4 linked regions of the Homo sapiens genome follow. The protein of the gene in region 2 purifies or fractionates together with the protein of the main gene of each other region. This does not show direct contact. Each region holds a gene or a part of one and is shown on either strand. Other genes may lie near its edges.

Region 1 (6,321 bases), on a different chromosome or scaffold from region 2:
GTGCTATTTCTTTTGCAGCATCGAAACTTTCTATATAACACTATCAAAAAAAAACTACTCCAAAACTTAAAATATAAAAATATATAGAGACAAAAAGTCAAAAAGTGAAGGGATGGAGTAGAAGTGTACAGGTTTTTAGTTTTTTCTGTGCGTGTATTTTTTCTTTTCTTTGCAATCAGAGTTGTCATCAGTTGCAAATAATTGGCTATAAATTGTTATTTGCTAACCTCATAGTAACCACAAAACAAAAACCTCTAATAGGTGCACAAAAAAATAAAAAGCAAGAAATTAAAACATACTACCAAAAAATAATTATCACAAAGGAAAACAAGGAAAAAAATGGGGGAAAAGCCCTAGAAAATAACCAGAACAACAATAAAAAGGCAGTAGTAAGTCCTTACCTATCAATAATAATACTGAATGTGAATGGACTAAATTCTTCACTATAAAAACATAGACTAACAACAAAAAGACGGAAAAAGATACTGCACCAAACAGAAACCCAAAAAGAGCCCAAGTAGCTTTGTATCTATTTTTAGATAAAATAGATTTCAACATAAAAACTATGAAGAAAGAAAAAAAGGTTATCATATAATACAAAAGGTTTTAATTCAGCAAGAGGACATAAAAATTATAAATACATATCTATCCAACACAGAAGCATCTAGATATATAGAGTCAAGTGTATTAGAGTTAAGGAGACAGAACCCAATACAGTAATGACTTGGGACTTCAACAGCCCACTTTCACCATTGGACAGATCATCTAGACAGAAAGAAACAATGAATTTAATCTGCACTATAGATTAAATGGACCTAATAGACATTTACAGAAGCTGTCATCCAACAGCCGCAGAATACATTCTTCTCCTTAGCACATGGAACATTTCTCAAGGATGGATCCTAAATTCTCCAATCAAAAGACACAGAAGAGCTGAAGGGCTAAACAAAACAAGGCCCTACTACCTGCTACATATAAGAAACCCACTTCATTTATAAAAACATAGATAGACCAAAAGATGGAAAGAGACATTGCATGCAAACAGAAATCCAAAAAGAGCACCATCATGTTAGGCCGCAAAACAAGTCTGATAAAAAGTATATTTTCTAACCACAATGGAATAAAAGTAGAAATAAATAACAAGTGGAACTTTGGAAACTATACAAACATATAAGAATTAAACAATACGTGCCTGAACAACCAATGAAGTAATTAAGGAAATTAAAAAATGTCTTGAAACAAATGAAAATGGAAACACAACCTACTAAAACTTATGAGATACAGTTAAAGCTAACACTAAAGGGAATGTTTATAGCAATAAATGTGCAAATCAAAAAGTAGAAAACCAAGAAATAAACAACCTAGTAATGCATCTTAAAGAACTAGAAAAGCAAGAGCATGCCAAGCCCCAAATTAAGAAGAGAAATAATAAAGAAAACAAGAAAATAAATAATAAAAAACAGAAATAAAATTGAGACAAAAAAATAGAAAAGATCAATGAAATGAAAAGGGTTGTTTGGAAAGACAGACAAAATCAATGAACCTTTACCCAGACTAAGAAAAGAAAAAAAAGAAGATCCAAATAAAATCAGAGACAAAAAAGGAGACATTACAATTGATATCACAAAAATTCAAAGGATCATTGGAGACCATTTGAACAACTGCATGCCAATAAATTGTAAAACCTAGAAGAAACGAATAAATTCCTAGGCACATACAGCCTAAGAAGAATGAAACATTAAGAAAACCAAAATCGAAATAGACCCATAATAAGTTTCAAGATAGAAACAATAATAAAAAGTCCCCCATCACAGAAAAGGCCAGGACTTCATGGCTTCACTGAGTTCTACCAAACATTTAAAGAAGAACTAACATCAATCCTACTCAAATCATTCTCCAAAATCAAGGAGGATCTCCAAATTCATTTTATGAGGCCAGATTTATTCTTTTTTTTTTTTTTTTTTTTTTTGAGACAGAGTCTCACTCTGTTGCCCAGGTGATCTGCAACCTCCACCTACTGGGTTCAAGCGATTCTCCTGCCTCAGCCTCCAGATTAGCTGGGATTACAGGCATAAGCCACCATGCCCAGCTAATTTTTGTATTTTTTGTAGAGATGGGGTTTCACCATGTCGGCCAGGCTGGTCTCAAACTCCTGGCTTCAAGAGATCTGCCTGCCTCAGCCTCCCAAAGTTCTGGGATTACTGGCGTGAGCTACCATGCCTGGCCCCAGATTTATTCTGATACCAAAACCAGACAACGATACAACAACAACAAAAAAGAAACTACAGGCCAGTATCTCTGATGAAAATAGATATAAAAATCTTCAACAAAACACAGCAAACCAAATTCAACAGCACATTAAAAAGATCATCATAATCAAGTGGGATTCATCCCAGGGATGTAAGGATGGTTCAACATATGTAAATCAATCAGTGTGATACATGGTATCAACAGAATGAAGGACACAAAGTGTATTGTCATTTCAATAGATGCCAAAAAAATCTTTTTTGATAAAATTCAATATCCCTTCATAAAAACTCTCAGCAAACTGGGGACAGAAGGATCATCCCTCAACATGATAAAGCCATACACAACAAACCCACAGTTAGTATCAGACTGAATGGGGGAAAAACTGAAAGCCTTTATTCTAGGATCTAGAAGAAGGATGGGCACTTTCACCACTATTACTCAAGTTAGTAACAGAAGTCCTAGCCAGAGTAAACAGACAAGAGAATGAAATAAAGGGCATTTAAATTGGAAAGGAGTAAGTAAAATTATCATTGTTTGCAGCTCATGTGATCTTATACTAACCTAAAGACTCCAACAAACGACTATTAGAACTAATAAATTCAGTAACATTGCAGAATACAAAATCAACACACAAAAATCCATAGAATTTCTCTATGCCAACAGTGACAACCTATCTGAAAAAGAAATCAAGAAGGTGATCCCATTTACAATAGCTACAAATAATATTAAATATCTAGAAATAAACTTAACCAACTACAATGCAAACTATCAAACATTGATGAAATTAATTGAAGAGGACACAAACAAATGAAAAGACATCCCATGCTCATGGGTTGAAAAAAATTGTATTGTTAAAATGACAATACTTCCCACAGCAATCTACAGATTCAAAGCCATCCCTATCAAGAGCAATGACATTCTTCACAGAAATAGAAAAAAAAAATCCTAAAATTGTATGGAAGCACAAAAGACCCCAAATAGCCAAAACAATCCTGACCAAAAAGAACAGAGCTGGTAACTGGTAGACTTACCACACTACCAAACCTCAAAATATACTACAACGCTATAGTAACCAAAATAGCACGATAGTGGCATAAAAACAGACATGTAGAACAACAGAACAGAGAGTCCAGAAATTAATCTGTGTATTTAAAGCCAATTAGTTTTTTACTAAGGTGCCAAAAACACTCATTGGGAAAGGACAGTCTCTTCAATAAATGGTGTTGGGAAAACTGGATGCCCACATTCAGAACAACAAAAGTAGACCCCAACTCTTGCCATATACAAAAATCAAAGAAAAATGCATTAAAGACTTACATCTATGAAACTAATCAAGGAAACCATTAGGCAAAAACTCCAGGACATTGGTCTAGGCAAAGACTTCTTAAATAAGACCTCAAAAACACAAGCAACTAAAGCAAGAAAATAAAATAAAATAACAACAAATGAGATCTCTCCAAGCCAAAAAGCTTCTGCACAGCAATGAAAACAATAAAATGAAGATATAACATGTAGAATGGGAGAAAATATTTCAAACTAATATCTGACAAAGGATTAATAACCAGAATATATAAGAATCTCAAACGACTCAATAGGAAAAAAAAATCTGATTTTAAAATGGGCAAAAGATCTGAGGAGACATTTCTCAAAAAGACATACAAATGGCAAACAGGCATATGAAAAAAATGTTCCACATTATTAATAATCAGAGAAATACAAATCAAAACTATAATGAGGTATCAACTCACTCCAGTTAAAATGGCTTTTATCGAAAAGGCAGTCAATATCAGATGCTGGTGAGAATGTGGAGAAAGGGGAACCCTTGTACACTGTTGGTGGAAATGTAAACTGGCACAGTCACAACAGAGAACAGTATGGAGCTTCCTAAAAACACAACAAATAGAACTATAATCCAGCAATCCCACTACTGTGTATATACCCAAGAGAAAGGAAATCAGTATATAAAAGGTATCTGTACTCCCATGTTAACTGCAGCACTATACACAATAGCCAGGATATGGAATCAACCTAACTGTCAATCAATGGATGGATAAAGAAATGTGGTACATATACACAATGGAATGTTATTCAGCCATAAAAAAAAAATGAAATCCTGTCATTTTCAACAATATGGATGTGACTGACATTATAAGGGAAATAAGCCAGGCATAGAAAGACAAGTATCACATGTTCTCACCCATATGTGGAAGCTTCAAAAAAATTGAAGTCATAGAGATAGTGAGTAAAAAGATGTTAGCAGAGGCTGGGAAGGGTAGTGTTGAGAGGAGAATCAAGAGGAGATGGTTAATGGGTAGAAAAATATAGTTAGATAGAAGGAATAAAATATAGTGTTCAGTAGCACAATATAGTAATTACAGCTAACAATAATTTAGTGTATGTTTTAGAACAATTAAATGAGTGGAAATGAAATGTCCCTAACACAAAGAAATGACAAATACTTGAGGTAATGGATATCCCAATTACCTGATTTGATCATTACACATTGTATGCTTATATCAAATATCACATACTCCCCATTTTATGTATCCATAGTAATTAAAAATTAAAATTTTTAAATATATGAGTTAAGTTAAAAAAATTTTGGCTCAAAGCATAAATATATTAAAATCAAATCTCAGAAGTAAAAAAGAAAGACAATTAGGGTTTTATTTATGGTAGTGGCAGACAGGACCAACCTTTCTGCTGACGCCAACAAAAAAACTAAATAATGAATGAAATAAAGTAATGTGAAATTACTTACCAAATTCCATGTGAAGGTAAACCAGAAACAAACCATACACCAAGTAACTTTTGTTCTGAGGACATTTTCCTGTCTAGAAGAAAAGGCTGAGAAAAAAGGCTGAGCTAATGGAAGATGTGCCGGTCTATGGTAAAAAAATCAAAGCACAAGGCCAGGTGTGGTGGCTCATGCCTGTAATCCTATCCTTTGACAGGCCAAGGCAGGAGGATAGCTTGAGCCCAGGAATTCAGGATGATTGTGTGCAATACAGCGAGACCTCATTTAAAATAAAAATAAACACAAAAAATCAAAATCAAAAATAAAAATAAAAGCACATTGCCTAACAAAGCTGGGGACTCAGATAAACTACCCAATTTATGTTCAGAGTTTAAGGACAACATCATTAGGATAAGAGGAAATTGAAGGAAAATAGAATTCATGATCTTAAAGTCTTCCTTAATGTCATGTGTATAACAGAAGGAATCCCAACTCTTGAACATGAATAGTGACTTGGGACTGAAAGCACTCCTAGAGACCTTTCCTAGAAAAATGTACCTTCTTAAAAAAGATACTATTATTCTAGGACTCATATATTCCTATAATTTTTTAAATACAACTGGTACTCAAGGCACACAAGAAAAAAATATCATAAGCTAGCAGACACAGACTTAGAAAATTTAGAAACTGGAATTATCTTCAACAAACAACAAATGAACTATGAATATAGTCGGCCCTTCATAGCCACAGATTCACTCAACCAAGGATTAAAAATACATGTATATTTTTAAAAACACGACTATAAAAAATAATAGAAATTTTTAAAAAGCCATGACAGTATAACAATATTTACATAGCATCTACATTGTATTAGGTACCATAAGCAATCTAGAGATTATTTAAAATACGTGGGAGGATGTGTGTAGGCCGTATGCAAACATGATGGCATGTTATATAAGGAATTTGAGCTGCCTGTGGATTGTGGTATCTGCACGGGGTTCTGAAACCAATTTCCAGCAGATACTAAGGAGCAACTATACTAGGCCAATAAAAGCAAGATTGTAATTTTCAGCAGGTAACCAGAAACAGTAAGAATATCACCAATATCTTTAAAAAGATACTGATGCATTGATCTAATAATCTCGATGAATACAGGGCAAGATAAAGAATGCCACACGATGATTGAACATTTCCTCTACCCCCACAACCACACTTGACTAGGAGAAAAAAAAAAAAGAAGAAAAGAATTCCACACAAAAAGATTAGAGTGAAACAGCAGAAAAATTACAACCAAAAAAAGAAACAAACAAAAAAAAATTCTAAAAGAGAGATTT
Region 2 (6,321 bases):
TTAGTCTCCATAACTGTAAGAAATAAATTCCTTTTCTTTGTACATTACCCAGTTTCAGGTATTCTGTTATAAGCAATAGGAAACAGATTAAGACATCCCTGCTATCAAAATTTCACTATGTAAAGTCAGGAACCAAAGGACAGACATGGACACTTAAAACAAATACTGTCAAAAAACAATTATAAAATCCTTACCATCAATATGAAGAATTTTTACTCCCCATGACAAGGCATTTGATAATATACTATTTGAAGGAATAAAATCCTGTAAAAAAAAAAGTTTTATGGTTGTTCTAGGAAATTATTTAAGATGAGCTAAATTTTAATAAAAATTCAATTATTTGAAGTTTAATGTCACTAAGGCAGTTATTTGTAACAGACCCTATAGAGTTACAATAGCTAGGACATCAAGATTTTCTATAGAATTCCTAAAATCAATCCCACTTTATACCCACATCCTTGGTAATTTAATGAAAACTATAAGGCAAGTTTTAAGTTTCCAGTAATATTTTAAAAGGCCACAAGATGGGGATGTTTCTACATGAAAAGTAAGTTCTTTACTTTGTAAAATAAAATATATGCTGAGATTCAGGTTTTTGCCTAAAAATGTGGAAAGGAAAATTTCAAGAATATCTGTAATTTCCAGTTGAGTTTTTAATAACAAAATGTACAATGTGAATCTTTATAGTTCCTACTTACATGGTCCTTGATAGCTTTTTCAACTAATAATTTTCCTCTGCTTAAACACACCTATAAAAAGACCAGAAAAATTTAAAACATAGTGCTTAACTGGAGAACAGGTTAAAAAGGTAAAGCAGCTAAGAAAAGAGAACTTTTGGGTCTCATATTAAAAAGTTTCTCTTTTTTGGGTGACCTCTTTGGTTTTGTAGTAAATTCTATTCAACATGAAAAATAAAATAGCTAGGTTTCACTGGAATTCTTTATAATTAATTGGCTTACATTTTAGTTCCTATTAAATCAGAGATTTCAGAAAAACAATAAATTTTATATACTGTTTTCACATGTTATTTCACCTTTTTTTTTTTTTTTTTTTTTTTGGAGACAAAGTCTTGCTGTGTCGCTCAAGCTAGAGTACAGTGGTGTGATCTCAGCTCATTGCAACCTCTGCCTCCCGGGTTCAAGTGATTCTCCTGCCCCAGCCTCCCAAGTAGCTGGGACTACAGGCACGCACCATCATGCCCGGCTAATTTTTGTATTTTTTTTAAGTAGAGATGTGGTTTCACTATGTTGGCCAGGCTGGTCTTGAACTCCTGACCTCGTGATTCACCCACCTCAGCCTCCCAAAGTGCTGGGATTACAGGCGTGAGCCACCGCACCCAGCCGTTACTTCACTTTTTAAATAAAGTACTAGGAAAACTCGTTGAAATGCCATAACCAACAATTATTTTGGAATCGCTGGTGTATTGTCTCCTTGCTCCAAAAAAGCATTAACTCAGAGAATGCATGGTCCTTTCTTGATCTCTTTTCCATTCTTTCTTCTATGTATTGTATCTCTTTTTTCAAGTGATAGCTCCTTTCTGACTCATTTCTTCTGTTTTCTCCTCATTTTCCTTAATTTTCAAATGGCTATAATAGGTAAGTCGAGGAGAATATTGTAAAATAATAACTTAATTACACTTCAACCTAAAAACTGAAATAAACATTTTATCTCTCATTTGATCCTATCCCACCTCACACCCAATTAAATCAATTTAATTTGTCTTTCCTTGCATCTTTCAATTTACTGGCCATGGAGTGGTAGGGATGTGATTTCAATAATTCTAGAATAGGGGCTGGCAACCTTTTTATGCAAAGGACCAGACAGTACACATTTTAAGCTTTGTTGGCCATATGGTCTCTACAGCAACTATTCAATTCTGCCTAAAACACAACAACTACAGATTATACCTAAACAAACAGGTATGGCTGTGTTCCAATAAAACATTATGACAATGAAATCTGAATGTCATAAAATTTCTACTTGTCACAAAATATTCTTTTGATATTTTTACACAACTATTTGAAAATGTAAAAACCATGCTTAACCTGCAGGTTGTACAAAAAAGGCAACAGACTAGATTTGGCCCATGGGCCAGAGTTTGCTGACCCCTGCTCTGAAAATTAAAAAGGTTTCTATTTCTTCTTCAAAGAATGATCTGCTCTTAACTTTTTAGTTGTAAATTATTCTAAAAACTACACGCCATCCCTAAATACAAGGGTATACCTAAGCAATCAGAGTATGATTACACAAGAACTATTAGGAAAAACCCACCTTCCTAAAAGACAGCAACTTTATTGAGGACTAGAGAGCCACACATCATGTGGCTTTGCAAATGTTCTACATAAGTAAACTCTACTGCCACCTTGCTATTAAAAACCAGGAGATCTTCAGGATATAGCCCTTCTGAGTCTCAAAGCATATTTAAGAGACTTACTGTGTCTGGTGACTTAAATGAACTTCCATCATGGCTGGGATGAGGTGAAGTGGTTTCTGCAGTATATGCAGATTCTGGACTTGGTACAGGAGAAATTCGACCCAAGGTTTGTGCAAATTTAGCTTCCTTCTTATTTGAAATAAGATAACTGATATCTTTGCTGAGAAATTCTTCAACTCGCTAGAAGAGAACAAAGTATTTTTATTTATAAATTTGTTTTAAGAAACACGGTCTCACTGTGTTATCCAGGCTAGAGTGCAGTGGCACAATCATAGCTCACTGCAGCCTCAACCCCCTGTTCTCAAGTGATCCTCCCGCCTTGGCCTTCTGAACAGCTGGGACTATAGGCACATGCCACCAAGGTATTTTCAACTAGGTCATAAAAACCATAAACTGTTTCATATGCCAAGCACAGTAAAAAATTTCAATTTGATGCAATTATTTCGTAAATTGGTGGTTTTTATACTGTATTTTTCTGAACCTAGATCTCTGAGGAAGTATAAGAGCTCCTATAACAGCACAACAGCAGCATGTGCTGGATACTATTCTTAAATACTTTATATATGTTAATTAACTTAATCTATGGAACAGCCTCATGATACTATCTACATTTTCTGCAGGATAAAAAGTGAAGAGAGGTGACTTGCTTAATGTTACCCAGTAGCAAATAATATAATTTGAACATAGGCATTCTGACTCAAGCCCATGATCTAAAGCAGCAGTGTCCAATACAACTTACCAAAGCATTTGAAATGGCCTTGGTAGTGTGATTAAGCCACTGAATTTTTTGTTTCTTAAGAGATGGGGTCTTGTTATGTTGCCCAGGTTGGCCCTGAACTCTTGGGCTCAAGAGAGCCTCCTACCTCAACCTCCCAAGTACCTGAGAGTACAGGCACACACTACTGCGCCTAGCTCAAGCCACTGATTTTTAAATTTGATTTTAAAGACTTTAAATTTAATAGCCACATATCACTAATGGTTACCATAGCAGACAATACAAGTCTAAATCAATCATTATTACACCTTCCCTTGAGGCTTCAACTTACAGGATGGAGGGAACCTTTACGCTTAAGAGTGTAAGACTGTTTGAATAGAATTTCTTTACTAAAATGTTTGAAAACCACCGCCTAAGTATCTGAATTTACTTATAAAGACATGTACCAAAGTGAAGGTTATTAAAGATCGCCAGGGTCAGGAAAATAAAAATAGGGAGAAGTAAATACTAAGTAGAATTACTAATATTATTAGAAAAATACATAGTATAAATATGTATACTATAAATACCCACTAAGCAGAAGTAAACTGTGAATCATTAATAAGCAGTAACAATTTACATCCATGAAAGACTTCTCAGAATATTTTAAATAGCTGTATCTATTTTCTATAGGATCCCACACTATAAATGATAATAAAAATGAAGTGTGTAACAGATAAGTTAACTTCATCTAAGCATTAAGCAGCATTTGCTACTGAGACCAGTGGCCTCCTTGGTTAAGTGCAAATCATTTCTTTTCCGACCAACATTCATTTTCATTGAACAGTAAATAATGTACCTACATTTATTTATTCCAGGGATTAGACTCAAATGCCTATAAGGGCCAGGCAATAATACAAATAATTCACACATCAAATACTGCCTTCATTTTCATAAATATGAGGCCCTAATAATGTCAGAGGTTCTAATTTTTCATAAGAAACCCGATCTCCTATACACTTTTATTGTGATAAATATAAAATTAGCCATTTTAACCATTTTTAAGTGTACAATTTAACGGCAGTAAGTACACTCACATTATGCAACCATCACTACTAAAACATTTCTATAACTTTTCCATGATCCCAAACTGAAAGTCTGTACCCATTAAACAGTAACTCCTCATTCCTCATTTTTCCCAGCCCCTCATAACCTTTATTCTACTTTCCATCTCTGAAATTGGCTATTCTAGATAACTCATATAATGGAATCCTACATTTGTTCTTTTGTAACTGGCTTCCTTCACTTAGCACGTTTTTTGTGGTTCACCCATGTTGTAGCATGTATTAGAATTTCATTCCTTTTTAAAGCTGAATAATATTCTATTGTATGTATATACAACCTCTTCTTTATCTATTTACTTGTTGGACATTAAGGCTGTTCACACTTTTTAGCTATTGTGAATAATAAATATCTTTGAGACCCTGCTTTCAATTATTTTGTATGTATAGCCAGAAATGGAATTGCAAAATCATATAGTAATTCAATTTTTTACTTTTTTCAGAAACTACCCATACTATTTTGTATGGTGGCTATATCGTGTTACACTACCACTCAGAGTGCACAAGGGTTCTACTTCTTCAAATCTTTGTTAACACTTGTTATTTTTCTGGTTAACAGTAACCATCCTAACAGGTGTTAAGTGATTACTGATTGACATTTCCCTAATGATTAGTGACGTTGAACATTTTTTCATGTACTTATCTGCCATTAGTATATCTTTTCTGAGTAAATGTCTTTTCAGTTCCTCTGCCCATTTTTAAATTGGGCCATTTGTCCTTTTGTTCTTGGGTCACAGAAGTTCTTTATATAAGTATTCTGGATATTAATCCCTTAGCAGATGTACAATTTGCAAAGATTTCCTGCAATTCTGTGCGTTCTTTCACTCCTGAAAATGTCCTTTGAGGCACAAAAGTTCTTAATCCTGATGAAGTCCAATTTCATACTTTTCATTTGTTGCACATGATTTTGGTATCATATCCAAGAAATCACTGCCAAATCCAATGTCATGAAGATCTCTCCCTATATTTTCCACTAAGAGTTTCAGTTCTTACAAATAAATCTTAGATCCATTTTGAGCTCATTTACGCATATGACAGTAAAGGTCCAACTTCATTTTTCTGCATGTAGATATCCAGTTTTCCCAGCACCAGCTGTTGAAAAGATCATCTTTTCCCCAATGAATGGTCTTGGCACCCTTCTTGAAAATCCATTAGCCATATATGCAAGGGTTTATTTCTGGGTTCTCTGTTCTACTCTATTGGTCTGTATGTCTGTTCTTATGTTAGTACCACTTATTTCCTTTGGTTTTTAATTTCTTACATAGTTAAAACTCCTTAGAGTGAATAAAACGCCCTTTGCAATCTAGCCCTAATATAATTTTGTTTGCTGTCACTTCCCCCACCTATATCCTAAGCTCAAATCCCACTGCAACATTAGTAGTTGTACAAACAAACTGCATTGACATATATTTTAAATATGCTTTCCTCTATTTAGTATGTCTATTTGCCTTGCTAACTAAGACTTCAAGATCCAGCTCAAACTTTATCTCTGTTGATTCCAAACGGCAGAGTTAATCATTCCTATCTCTGTGTTCTAATAGCAATTTCTACATATTTCTGTCAAAGCATTGACAACACTCTAACATAAATTATTCAGTTGTCTGAGGTTTCCACTAGACAAAGAATACCTAGAGGGTTATATTTTACTTATTTTTGTATCTCTAGGATCTAAAATAGTGCTGATATACTGGAGACAGTGGTGGAATAATTTTTGAATGAATTCCCACATGCCCAAATCTTCATCATTCTTCAAAGCCGTGTTCCAGTTGTGTGTGAACAAAACCCACAATTCCTCAGCTGGAACTAATCTCTCCTTTCTCTTGACATTCTATGTTGTATTATTAACACAATTACTTGTACCAATGTCATCTCTAGCTAGGTTAGAACATGAGGATGGGATGGACATAAGGATTCATTTTTTATTTTATTTTTCTTTTGAGACACAGTCTCGCTCTGTTGCCCAGGTGGAGTGCAGTGGCACAATCTTGGCTCACTGCAACCTCCAACCCCCAGGTTCAAGAGATTCTCCTGCCTCAGCCTCCCCAGTAGCTGGGATTACAAGTGTGCGCCAC
Region 3 (6,321 bases), on a different chromosome or scaffold from region 2:
ATCTCCAACATGCAATCACTTTCATTAGTTTGTTGTGTAGTCTTCTAGTGTTTCTTTATGCAAAACCAAACAAATATAAGTATTCCTCCCCCTTTTAGAAAAGAGGTCACATGCTATACATGCTGTTCCGAACACTGGACTTTCCCATTATCCAGGAATCCTAGTTGAAATGCTGATTTTAAAATGTTTAGATCTAGTCCTAAAAAACAACCTGCAAAAATTCTCTCTTGCTATAGCCATATCTGTTCCCTCTTTTCTGACCACCCCAACCCACACAGTTCCTGTACCCTCACATCTTTCACGTGCAAATCAAGTGAACTAACCCAAGCCCATCTGGGCATGCTGTCTTCTGGATCCTAAAACCCCCAGAACCAGGGTTTTCTGTCCAGGAGACATTCAGGACTCTTATTTTCAGAAGAACAAATTCTAAATCTGAAAAACTTGTATTTAATATGTACACTGATAATTTTTAACTTTAAAAACATGATAGATTCTACTCTGAAAAACAGCATTGGACTGAATCTGTCTTCCATTATCCTCTAAGGTTCTGGAGCTACATGAAAACAGTGGAGTGGGGAAACTCATAAACCTGTAACTTTAATATGTCACCTGTTCATTTAACTTTTAATCTGGCTTCAGTGCCTTCTGAGATTTGGAGAACAGCAAAAAAAAGCAGAAGAAAGCATTATATCTGAATTCAGAAAACTGGCTTTACCATTCATTAGGATCATGAGATTAAGTCACTTAATTTCTTTTTCGACTGACTCAATCATTGCCTTACCTGCCCCAAAACAGGGGCGCTTCAAATGCTCTTGCTGTCCTTTCTACCACAGAAGCACCATGAGCCTATTTGTCCATGTATGTCCCACCTATTCAACTGTTCAACGGTGTATTCATATAATAAAAGCTAAGCTTCCTATTTGGTGTGTTCTCTCCCTCACCCACGGGGTAGTTGTACACTAGGCATTAATCCCTAGCCCACAGTGAGACGCAGGGTGGCTGAAACCCATGGCGGCATCATCTCTTTATCCTGGCATGCCACAGAAATACTATCATTTGCTATGTGTGCTGAAGAAAAGGGTTAGGAAACATTGTATTAAAGATAGAAGAAAAAGAGAGAGAAAGAATACATTCCTTTTAGTCAATCACTTTAAATTCTTATAAAAAGTAAACTGCTGTATTTTTTTAAGGAAAAAAAAAATAAGAACATTAGGTTAGTTCCAAATATTGGAGTTCTCATGGATGTCTACAAAAATTCAAGTTCAAAAAAGAATTAAACATTTGTGCTTACATTTAACTTACAAGCTTAAGAAACAAAAGATTATCCTCTCTGAGAGTCTAATGCAAAGGAAATTCTTTTTTTTAATTAGCAAAATATCCACTGCTACAACTAGACACTAAACCAAACTCTGAAGTTAAATGGGCAGGGAAACAAAATAAGGATGCTTCATTCTGTTTTTATTCTTTCAACTGTCAGCAGTATAAATGACTGACACAAATAAAAATCAAATAATAAAATGTAGGGGGATAATAGAAATCGCTTACAACACTGAACCCCACAAGGAAAAATGAAGTGAAAGACAAGGAACATCCCCAAAATGAAAATTTCCTCTACCACTTAAGCTTCAATTTGATTACAAGCGTCCTTGATAACAGAATCTGAGGGGTTGAGTATGAAGCTGGTGACAAGACTGGCATGTCTTCAGCACAGCAAGGCCAAATCTATGTAATATACTCATTAACCCCACCCTGAGAACGCCCAGTTGGACCAGATAAATAAATACCACATAGTATGATGCTACTAAAGGAATTTGGTCTTGACTGGTAGTCCCTTCTAAGTTTGAATCTTTTCCTGATTTCTATGGTATCAGTTACCAGAATCAAATGGGTGTCTCTCTTGACTAAGTTTCAGCGTCATTAAATAACACTGGCAATAAGCAATGATTCTGATAGGTAGGCATTTTAAATCAGTACAATTCATTCAGAGGGCAATGCCTACATATCAGAATAATAAAGATAAGTGGCCAGGTACGGTGGCTCATGCCTGTAATTCCAGCACTTTGGGAGGCCGAGGTGGGTGGATCACTTGAGGTCAGGAGTTTGAGACCAGCCTGGCCAACACGGTGAAACCCTGTCTCTACTAAATGTACAAAAAAAAAAATTAGCCAGGCGTGGTGGCACAGGCCTGTAATCCCAGCCACTTGGGAAGCTGAGGTAGGAGAAATGCTTGAACCTGGGAGGTGGAGGTTGCAGTGAGCCGAAATCGCACCACCGCACTCCAGGCTGGGCAACAGAGTGAGACTCCGTCTCAAAAAAATGAAAAAAAAAGTATTCAATAGAAACAAAGGAAGAGCTTTACCATAGCATCAGGTACATAAGTAGAACACTGGGAAAAATGTAGAGCTCTAACAGAAACTGAAGGGTCTGGTAAATTATAGCGCAGAGACATAACAGAATACTGTACTCATTAAAAAATAACAATTATAAACATAAGCTATTATGTTGGTGCAAAAGTAACTGTGGTTTCAATTACTTTTGTGCCAACCTATAGAAACGTAACATTTATGACATAACATTAAGTGAAAGACCGGAACAAAAACTGGTATGTGTGTGTGCATGCGTGTGTGTGTGTGTGTGTGTGTGTGTGTGTGTAAAATAAACCCTATATATTTTTTAAAATATCTTTTCAAAATGACTCATTACCAAACTTCTCATTTTTAAAGTTTCCCCATCTATTCTATTTACTCAGTTAAATTTTTCATTTCTTAACCCTCCTATGCGCCATGTCTTTCTGATCATTTCTGTTTTCCAATATAGTTGTTTTTATCTCCTTTACTCATCGTCTTGACAAAAATTTCACTGTCTATCATGCTTTCTTTTCCAACGGTAGGAAAAGTATCTACATAAAGGCTATAGAGTAGAGACCAAACTCACCCTGTGATCCCTGCACTACCTTCCCAAATCCTGCCTTGTTATCACTGTGAAGAAGACCCAGCAGTAAAAGGGGACTGAAATGTAAGAGTGACACACCATGCCATGCCTCAAAGCTACATTCTAATTATTTCTGCCTATCTATCTACATGTGCATATGAAGTAGATATTTAAAATAATCAACTACTGCATGTTTCTTACCTATTGCATGAATCTGATTCTGATGAAGAAAGAACTTCTTGAATATCAATACAGCTAGAAGAATCCTCTTCTCTGTCAGGTTCCAATTCCTCTGGGGAGTCCAGCTTTGATTGAGAAAAGTGGTTTGTTACTGAGGTCATATTATCTTCCTGTCCTAGGAAAAAATAAATTTAAGAGTACCTTAAAATCTACAACTTCTGTATGCCTATTACTTCTGCAACACTTAATACTGCCATGTGCACTTAGTAAAGTTGAAGTATATGTCACATAGATTCCAGAACTCTAGTGACAGCCAGAGAGCAAGAATTAACACTACAATGGTGCTATCTAATTATACTGTCCAGCCCATGTTTTTCCAAGATTAATTAGTTTAAAAATAAAATTTATTTTAAAACCAGAAGCAGGAAGAATCTTGTAATTCTAATGAGGCCTCTATTAACATATCACTAAGGAATTCTTGCATATTTCATAGATCAGAGAACACTGACAAACCAACATAAGAAGTATAACCAAAAAAAGACTACAGATTCAACTAATAAGACAACCACAATATTTGCTACTATTATATGATAGTGAATCTATCTGGACATTTTTCTAAACATTTTTCTAGGTTAACTAGAATCTAATTATTCTCTATGGAAAAGGACAACTAAACAGACATAAGGAATATTTCCATTTGATCCAATACACATCACATTTCCGTGCATTCTTTGTCATATTCTCAGATTTCAAGGTCTCTTATTGCAGATAAAAATAAAGACCCCAAAAAGCTGGAAGGATGCAGTGTTTACAAAAATGTGGCATATGGGTATGGCCAATTTTCTACAAATATGAGTGGAAGAATATCTGTGAAAGATTCTTTAGTGCCCAGGATTCTCCCACTCATCATGAACGCTGCTGGGATTTTCATCTGTGCTGTCCTTAACTTTCAGGAACTGAGGAGGTACCTCACATGCAAGCTACATGTGCTAATAATACTACAGAGCTCCTTTCATGTGTTTCCTCACAGAGAAACAGAGCTTTCACACATCACTCATCAAGCACTTGTAGAGGCAAGTGGTCTTCAACAAAGCACACTAAAAATACAATTGTCAAGGTTTGATTATACAGAGAGAATTTATGGGGAAAGAACATAACAAATTCTTCAAAAAACCTTGCCAAGTTCATACAGTTAAATTTTTTTCAGAAATAGTTCTAAGTTTTTGTTACACTGAGAGAACAGCATACTTCACAAGAGTGTAATTCCTAAAAATATGCTCCTAATGTCATCTGGCTGTCAATAAACTATCATTAGCAAAACAAAACAGCACCCTCTAATGTATATCTGGAAAAGGGAAAAAGAATTTAGCCAGGATGACCATCCTGAACCTCTAGGAACTCCTCTTGTAAACAGATACCAGAATCACATTAAGAGGAGCCAATCCCCCAGTCAACTCGGTTCACCCAGGGACTATATTACTCAACTAGTGAGGTGCATGCAAGCAAGCTAGCAAACCAGGGAACAGGAATTCAACTTAAAACAATCTTTTATTTTTGCACATTGTCTGTATTCTTTTCTTACTTCTTCCACTCTTACATACACTTCTAGAAGATATATTCCCTCTTGGGAACAAACAGCATTCAATAATCTGTGGGCATAAAAAATAAGTTATCCTTCCTACTTGCCCTTAGATCTCAGAATGCAGGACTCCAAAATAGAGCCCCGAAGAGTGAGGCTCAGACATCAGAGCTCCCCAGAGACACACAACAAAAACAGGCTAAGTTTTCACTTGAGAGAATATGCAACTTGTTCACTTACATGAGCACTTCAATGTTCTAAAGAGCAACAATTATATTGGTTGTATGATGCTATACAAAATCCATCTTTTCAGTCAGTCTGTGTCTGTCTTCATCTCTCTCACATACCTTACCCTCTCAGACATCTCATTCATGCACAGCAATCTAAAAGCAGCAATCACCTCTGAACCCCGGAAAGAGTAATATTGATGTTCATAAATACATACAAGCCATCAATGATATTCAAGAGAGGTTCAACTAATTAAAAAAACTTTTCTTAATGGGAAATATTCAGTCAGATTTTCTCAAGTGCTAAACTAGTTTCTAGAAATATCCTTTAACAACTGCATGAACAAGTTCGAGTTGTTCAATGACCATGAGTTACATACTGAGGCAGCACTTTATGCACAAATTGTTTATTAGTCACTAGGGAAATGCAAATCAAAACCACAATGACATACCACTTCACATCTACAATTTTTAAAAAATTTAAAAATCAGAAAATAACAAGCATTGATGAGGATGTGAAGAAATTGGAACCCTCATGCTTCGCTGGTGGGAATGTAAGATAATGCAGCCACTATGGAAAAGTTTAACGATTCCTCAAAAGGTTCTAAACATAGAACCAGCATATGAATCAGAAATCGCACTCTAAGCTGAAACTTAAATATCTGACCACCAATGCTCATAGCAGCATTATTTATAAGAACCAAAAGGTGGAAATAACCATAGCAGATAAATGGATAAACAAAATATGACATATACATACTATGGAATACTGTTTAATCAAAAATTTTAAAATATTTTAAAATTTTAAAATGTGCTACAACATTGAAGGACTCTGAAAACATTATGCTTAGAGAAAGAAGCCAACACACAAAGACAAATATTATACAATTCCATTTATATGAGGTACCTGGAATGGGCAAACTCATAGACACAGAAAGTGGAATTGTTATTACCAGGGCTATGAGGCAGAGGGGACGGAAGAGTTGCTATTTCATGAGTGCAAAGTTTGTGCTGGGAATGATGAAAATGTTTTGGATATAGACAGTGGTGATAGTTACACAATATTGTGAATGTACTTAATGCCAATGACTTGTACATTTATGAAGGGTTAAAAAGATAAACATTGTGTTATGTATATTTTACCACAATATAGAAAAACATAATAAGCAATTTTCTTGCGCACTTTCCCCCATTATGATTCTTTTTTGTTCACTGGTCCAAAGCCCAGGCAATAGAATTAAAATATCAATTTCAAATTTTAAAATGGATCAAAGTTAAGGAACGTGCTCTGTATTAGCCTACCAGGTATGTTAACTTTAGACTGTTTGGCAGAACATTTCATCCAAAGTAAACACCAGTGTTCTATCACAAAAATAATTCACTCTCTTTACAGGATCTCCACCA
Region 4 (6,079 bases), on a different chromosome or scaffold from region 2:
TGTCTCATGCTCTCCCTGTTCCTCTCCCCGCCACCCCAGGGCCTCCAAGCCACCTCTGGAAATACTTGGCTCTGCCCCATGGGCACGGGAGGGGCGCCAGCCGTGGAGCTGTGGAATTGGGCCCCGTGGCAGAGCCCCCATCCCTTGGGGGCTGTGGGGATGCGCCCAAGCCCCCGAGGGAGAGGCCTGGGGACACCAACAAATCTAAGCCCTCCCTAGCTGCTTGGTAACTGTGTCATGAAGCTGCCGGACAGACACACGTGGCATCTCCCTGGGCAGGAGAGCAGGCCTGCAGCATGGGTCCTGTTCCCGTGTGCCGTGGGTGGCAGTGGCTGCACCTGGCACTAGGGCTGCTCTGTGGATGTGGGTGACAACGGCAGGAGGGGATGCTGGCCTTCCTGCACATAGACCTGCAGTTAGTAAATCATAAGCCCAAATAAACAGGTTGTTTGAATATAGTTTCTTGGTTCTCCGTTGAAACCGTGGGACACAGGGCAGGCCCACCTGCTGAAGAGCGGATGGCTTGGGGGCTGGGTGTGGCTCCCTGTCAAGGTGGGACCATGTGGATACCTGTTCTCAGGCCAGCACCTGGCCACAAGTGCCCGATGAGCCACCCACCTGGGGAGGAAGTCCCGTGCGCTAGGGGAGGCTGTGCTGTGCCCACAAAGGCCCAGTCCCTGCAGGGGAGGCGAGTGCTGTCACAGGCCTGGCTTCCCTGTGGCCAGAGGGACAGGGTGTCCTGAGACGGCCACATCCTATTCCTGGAACCTGCAGATGCGCAACTTCACCTGGCAAGAGGGGCTTGGGTATGATGAAAGGTCTTGAGCTGGGAGATGATCCTGGGTGGTCCGGGACCCAGTGTCCTCACAAGAGGTGGCAGGAGGGTGAATCAGAGAGAGACTGGAAGAGGCTGCGCATGGCTGTGAAGGTGGAGGAAGGGACCCCGAGCTGAGGGATGCAGCGCCTCCGAGCACTGGGAAACTCTCCAGGAGGGCCTGGTCCTGCCCACAGCTTGATGTTAGCCTGGCGGGGCATGTGTGCACTCTGACCCCCAAGCTGTGAGATGGTGACTTGCTTTAAGCCACCAGGTTTGTGGTACAGCAGCCCCAGGAGACACAGGGACTCTGCCCTGCAGTGTGGAAGGCATGTGTGCCCCGGCCCCACTGCTGACTTGGGGATGCAGGTCTGCACCTGGGGGAGGTGCCCGGGGCCTATGCTCGTGCCCCTGACCTTGCATTGGTCCCTCCCTCGCCCCCGGCACTGCCCCAGCTGGTGTGGGCACCCGGCCTGTTGAGAATGGAGGCTGTCACTCCAGTCCTGCGTCCTGCAGGCCCCAGGACCTGATTCCGGGTTGTCGGGAGCCCCTGTAAAGCTCATCAAAGGTGTGGCACAGGGGCAGCCTCTGCTTCAGGCACAGCTGAATCCTGCTTCCCAGCAGGAAGGCCTGGCCCGGGCGCCCTGCCGTCCCTGACTGGGTGGATGGAGGTAGCTGACACTTTTCCCACATAGGGTTCCCTGAAGGGAAGCTTAGGACTTCAGGTGGGGTGTGGCTGGGAAGAGCAGGACTGGCGAGCGTGACCCTCCCCGTGGCTGCGTGTGCTCTGAGCTGCTCAGTACCACAGCGGCTGTCGCCTGTCCTCCCTCGGACAGTGTGGATAAAGCCCACTCAACCTGGGGCGGGGAGGAGGTCACCTTCTAGCTCCAGCACTCGCAAAAGATGCACCTGACCTGGGGTGGGCTCTCACAAAGCCTCAGACTCGAAGCCAAACTCGGCTCCCAGCAGCTCCGGGTTCAGGGAGGTGACCCTAGCAGGTCTCTGGGAACACCCTCTCCTAACCCCCCAACCCAGGGCAGGAGGGATCGCCGGACAGAAGCACGTGCGGAAAAACCCGCACCTTGACCCAGGTCAGCCTGGTATGAGGGTGACTTAGTGACAAACAGATGGGACGGTGCTGTTGCAGGGCACAAGGCTGGCCCCAGACACCAGGCACCACATGGGGCCGGGCCATGGGCAAGGTGCACTCTCAGAGAAACACAATGTTTTCGGAAAAGACAGACAGAGCAGCTCAGGGCTAGAGAATAAGTTTATACACTGCCTCGTTAGGTCCAGGGGCCCGCGCACGTGGCCAGGCGGGTGGTCCTGACGCTTCAATTCATTTACAAGTATTGGATTCCACGCCTGCTCCTGTGCCCGCAGGCTTCCCCAATAGGCCAGCAATCTCAATAATGCTTTATTAAAGGGCAGATTCATATGCGGCTCTTGGGGGAATTTTTACAAATATCAAAGGAACTAATCCAGCATCCTATATAGAACTCTGCACACTTTGGGGAGGTCCGTGAAGCAGGACAAAGTGCTCTTTACACAGGAATTGAGTCGGTTCAAGTATCTGCTCTGTGGGGAGGACACCCTAAGCATTCTACATACGTCACCCCTGCTCTCAGGATGCACCCAGTGGGCTCGCGGTCAGGGTGGCCTTGCCGGTGTCCACCCCCACACCACCCCCAGCTCCGGAAGCGGCTCCACACGGGGCTTGGACCTCTGCAGGGCAAGAGAGGGAGGGTCTTGAGCTGGCTGGGCCCTCTGGGCTCCCTGGGGGAAGACCCCACCCTGCTGCCTCATGGGGCCTGCAACAACCCCAGGGCGGGACCCTCCACCTGACAGTGGGGACAGGCAGAGGCTGGGGCGTTGTGCCTCTTCTAGAGGTGACCTGCTCACCTGCTCTCAGGTTGACCCTGCCTGCCCCCCACCACCCGGGCACACTCCTCCCACGCAGCCTGCTGCAGGGCCTCTGTACTTCCTCTTTGGCGAGTGCTCCAGAAATCCACCTGGCCCTCCCTTGCTGCCTCAGTGCAGCCTTCCCTGACCCCCATCTAACGTCACAACCACCTGAGACTCCCAGCATAGGCCCTTGTGGCTCTGCGGCCAGAACGATGCCTGGCATGGTCAGCACCCACGGCCCAGCCCGCCCGAGGATGTGGCAGGGCAGGAGCCACTTCCAGCTGCAAGCCCTCCTGGCTGCTCACAGTGGAGCTAGTCTTAGGCAGCCCCATCCCTTCTCTGTTGAGGTTTACCTCCAGCGCCCACCTCACCAGTGCGTTCTGCTATCTACAGCCCTTCTCACCCGCAGCATCCGGGACATCCACGATCATACAGTCGCCCTCCTCCTCTTCCTCCTCCTCCGTGTCTGCCTGGAAGCCGTCCATGTCTTCAGCACCAATCTGGACAGACAGGGTACACGGCCATCAGCACTGCAGGCAGCAGCCACCCTGGTGCCAGTGCGGTAGCGGGGGGAACTCCACAGGTGTGACACCTTCCTCCCACCCCCAACACGGAAGGAAACCAACATCCAGAACCCAATTTGGTAACAAACTGTCCAAATGTGAGAGGTTTATTCAAGAGGCCACAACCAGAGAACCTTGGGGGTTCCCTCAAATGAACTGGATTCAGATCTCCAAAAACAGCCATCATTGCCAACTGCAGAATAATTTCCAGTCAGTGACAGGCCGCATACCTGATAGTGGCCCCATCAGATTACAACTGTATTTATTTATTTTTATTTTTTTTTGAGACGGAGTCTCGCTCTGTTGCCCAGGCTGGAGTGCAGTGGCGCGATCTCGACTCACTGCAAGCTCCGCCTCCCGGATTCACGCCATTCTCCTGCCTCAGCCTCCTGAGTAGCTGGGACTACAGGCGCCTGACACCACGCCCAGTTTGTATTTTTAGTAGAGACGGGGTTTCATCGTGTTATCCGGATGGTCTTGATCTCCTGACCTCGTGATCCGCCCGCCTCAGCCTCCCAAAGTGCTGGGATTACAGGTGTGAGCCACCATGCCTGGCCTTTATTTTTTATTTTTGAGACGGGAGTTTCACTCTGTCACTGAGGCTGGAGTGCAGTGGCACAATCTCAGCTCACTGCAACCTCCGCCACCCGGGTTCAAGCGATTCTCGTTCTTCAGCCTCCTGAGTAGCTGGGATTACAGGTGTATGCCATCACGCCCAGCTAATTTTTGTATTTTTAGTAGAGACGGGGTTTCACCATGTTGGTCAAGCTGGTCTCAAACTCCTGACCTTATGATCTACCCACCTCAGCCTCCCAAAGTCCTGGGATTACAGACAACTGTATTTTTATTTAATATATATAAATCTTGAGACAGAGTCTTGCCATATATCCAGGCTGGAGTGCAGTGGTGCGATCTTGGCTCACTGCAACTTCTGACTCCCAGGTTCAAGTGATTCTCCTGCCTCGGCCTCCTGAGTAGCTGGGATTACAGCCACCTGCCACCACACCCGGCTAATTTTTGTATTTTTAGTAGAGATGGGGTTTCACCATGTTGCCAGGCTGGTCTCGAACTCTTGACCTGAAGTGATCCGCCTGCCTTGGCCTCCCAAAGTGCTGGGATTACAGGCGTGAGCCACTGCCCCAGCCGCAACGATATTTTTGCTGTGCCTTTTTTTTTTTTTTTAACAGGTGCCCGCCACTACGCCCAGCTAATCTTTTGTATTTTTAGTACAGACGGGGGTTTCGCCATGTTGGCCAGGCTGGTCTCGAACTCCTGACCTCAGGATTCGCCCACGTCAGCCTCCCAAAGTGCTGGGATTACAGGCATGAGCCACCGCACCTGGCCTCTGCTGTGCCTTTTCTATGTTAAAGACACATATACCACTGGGTTACAAGTGCCTGCAGGATGGAGCAGTCAGTCACCTGCTGCACAGGTCCACAGCTCAGGAGCCCTGGGCTATGTACCACACGGCCCAGGCGTGTGGCAGGCTGTCCATCTAGGATGTGTAAGAGCAACCTAGCCCCACCCAACCATGAAATTGCCTGAGGACACCTCTCAGAACACGTCCCTGATGTGAAGTGATGACTGTGACTTGTGAATTATTATTATTATTTTTTTAGACCTCGACTCACTGCAAATTCCACTTCCTGGGTTCACACCATTCTCCTGCCTCAGCCTCCTGAGAAGATGGGACTACAGGCACCCGCCATCACGCCCAGCTAATTTTTTTTTTTTTAAGTAGAGACAAGGGGGTGTCACTATGTTGCCCAGGCTGGTCTCAACCTGGGCTCAAGCCATCCTTCCACCTCGGCCTCCTAAAGTGCTGGGATGACAAGGTGTGAGCCACCGCACCTGACCCTAGTAAGATTCCTGAGCTGTTTCCATTTGCTTTCACCAAAGGAGAAAGACAGGATGCGTAGAGGCCACCATGAGCCTCCACGTCAGTGCTTACCCTCTCTGTGCATGAACACAAGCCCATCCCAGGACAGACAGCCACACTTATTTCAGTAGGGAGGATAGTCCTCAAAAAATTCCAGGAATTCTTCCTCTACAAAAACCTAGAAAAGTGACCGCACAGCAACACAACGGTCAGGCCATAGACTGGTTTCATGGGCTGTCATGTAAGAGCACAGTGCCTGGCCAGGCAGACTGGGTTCCTACCGTAGCCTCATCAATTCCTGGGTAGGGGCTCCCCTCCTGGATCCTCTCTTCAGTGGCTGGGAGCCCAGGCTGTCCCTCTCCCCAGGCAGCATGGGTTGACCCTGTGAGGACACAGGAGAAACATCTTGCTCTGTCACCCAGGCTGTGGTGCAGTGGTGCAATCACAGGTAACTGCACCCTTCAACTCCTGGTCTCAAGTGATCCTCCTGCCTCAGCCTCCCAAAGTGCTGGGATTACAGGCATGAGCCACTGAGCCTGGCCTACGGCCATTTTCAACTACCTTTTTGAAAGAATAGTTAAGCAAAGAAGAGTCTAAGAGTCCCCTGTAGACGCTGCTGAGGAGGGACATTCTGATCTGGAGGTGTCTGGGGACGTTAAACAAAAGAACATGCCAATTTCTTCAGAGCCACCTCAAGTCACTGGGCCCTCCCTCCACACAGGAGACGCGTTGACACATTAGGCTTTTCTTGGATCCAAAATTTTTCAGAGCAATCACCACTCTTCACCCTCTAGGCTGAAGACAGGATTTAACACATAACACCGAGTCCCACTGTGCTGAGCTGCCGGCAGCTTGCTTCACGGGGACAGCTGTCATCTCGCCAGCAGCACTGCAAGTGCTAAACACAGACACGGAGGA

What was found.
Region 1: the proteins of DBF4 (region 2) and ORC4 purify together in Homo sapiens (affinity purification with western blotting, with the first as the bait; one large-scale study listed by BioGRID). This does not show direct contact.
Region 3: the proteins of DBF4 (region 2) and RAD18 purify together in Homo sapiens (affinity purification with western blotting; one study listed by BioGRID). This does not show direct contact.
Region 4: the proteins of DBF4 (region 2) and CHAF1A purify together in Homo sapiens (co-immunoprecipitation; one study listed by IntAct). This does not show direct contact.

The regions. Positions count from the first base shown.
Region 1 is NC_000002.12:148,008,903-148,015,223, forward strand, and holds part of ORC4 (origin recognition complex subunit 4), read right to left. Parts: intron 1-6,321. UniProt on the Homo sapiens protein: Component of the origin recognition complex (ORC) that binds origins of replication. DNA-binding is ATP-dependent. The specific DNA sequences that define origins of replication have not been identified yet.
Region 2 is NC_000007.14:87,881,272-87,887,592, reverse strand, and holds part of DBF4 (protein DBF4 homolog A), read right to left. Parts: intron 2,615-6,321; coding exon 2,435-2,614; intron 750-2,434; coding exon 699-749; intron 265-698; coding exon 195-264; intron 1-194. UniProt on the Homo sapiens protein: Regulatory subunit for CDC7 which activates its kinase activity thereby playing a central role in DNA replication and cell proliferation. Required for progression of S phase.
Region 3 is NC_000003.12:8,895,762-8,902,082, forward strand, and holds part of RAD18 (E3 ubiquitin-protein ligase RAD18), read right to left. Parts: intron 3,287-6,321; coding exon 3,133-3,286; intron 1-3,132. UniProt on the Homo sapiens protein: E3 ubiquitin-protein ligase involved in postreplication repair of UV-damaged DNA. Postreplication repair functions in gap-filling of a daughter strand on replication of damaged DNA.
Region 4 is NC_000019.10:4,439,385-4,445,463, reverse strand, and holds the end of CHAF1A (chromatin assembly factor 1 subunit A), read right to left. Parts: intron 3,220-6,079; coding exon 3,123-3,219; intron 2,540-3,122; coding exon 2,439-2,539; 3' UTR 2,067-2,438; downstream 1-2,066. UniProt on the Homo sapiens protein: Acts as a component of the histone chaperone complex chromatin assembly factor 1 (CAF-1), which assembles histone octamers onto DNA during replication and repair.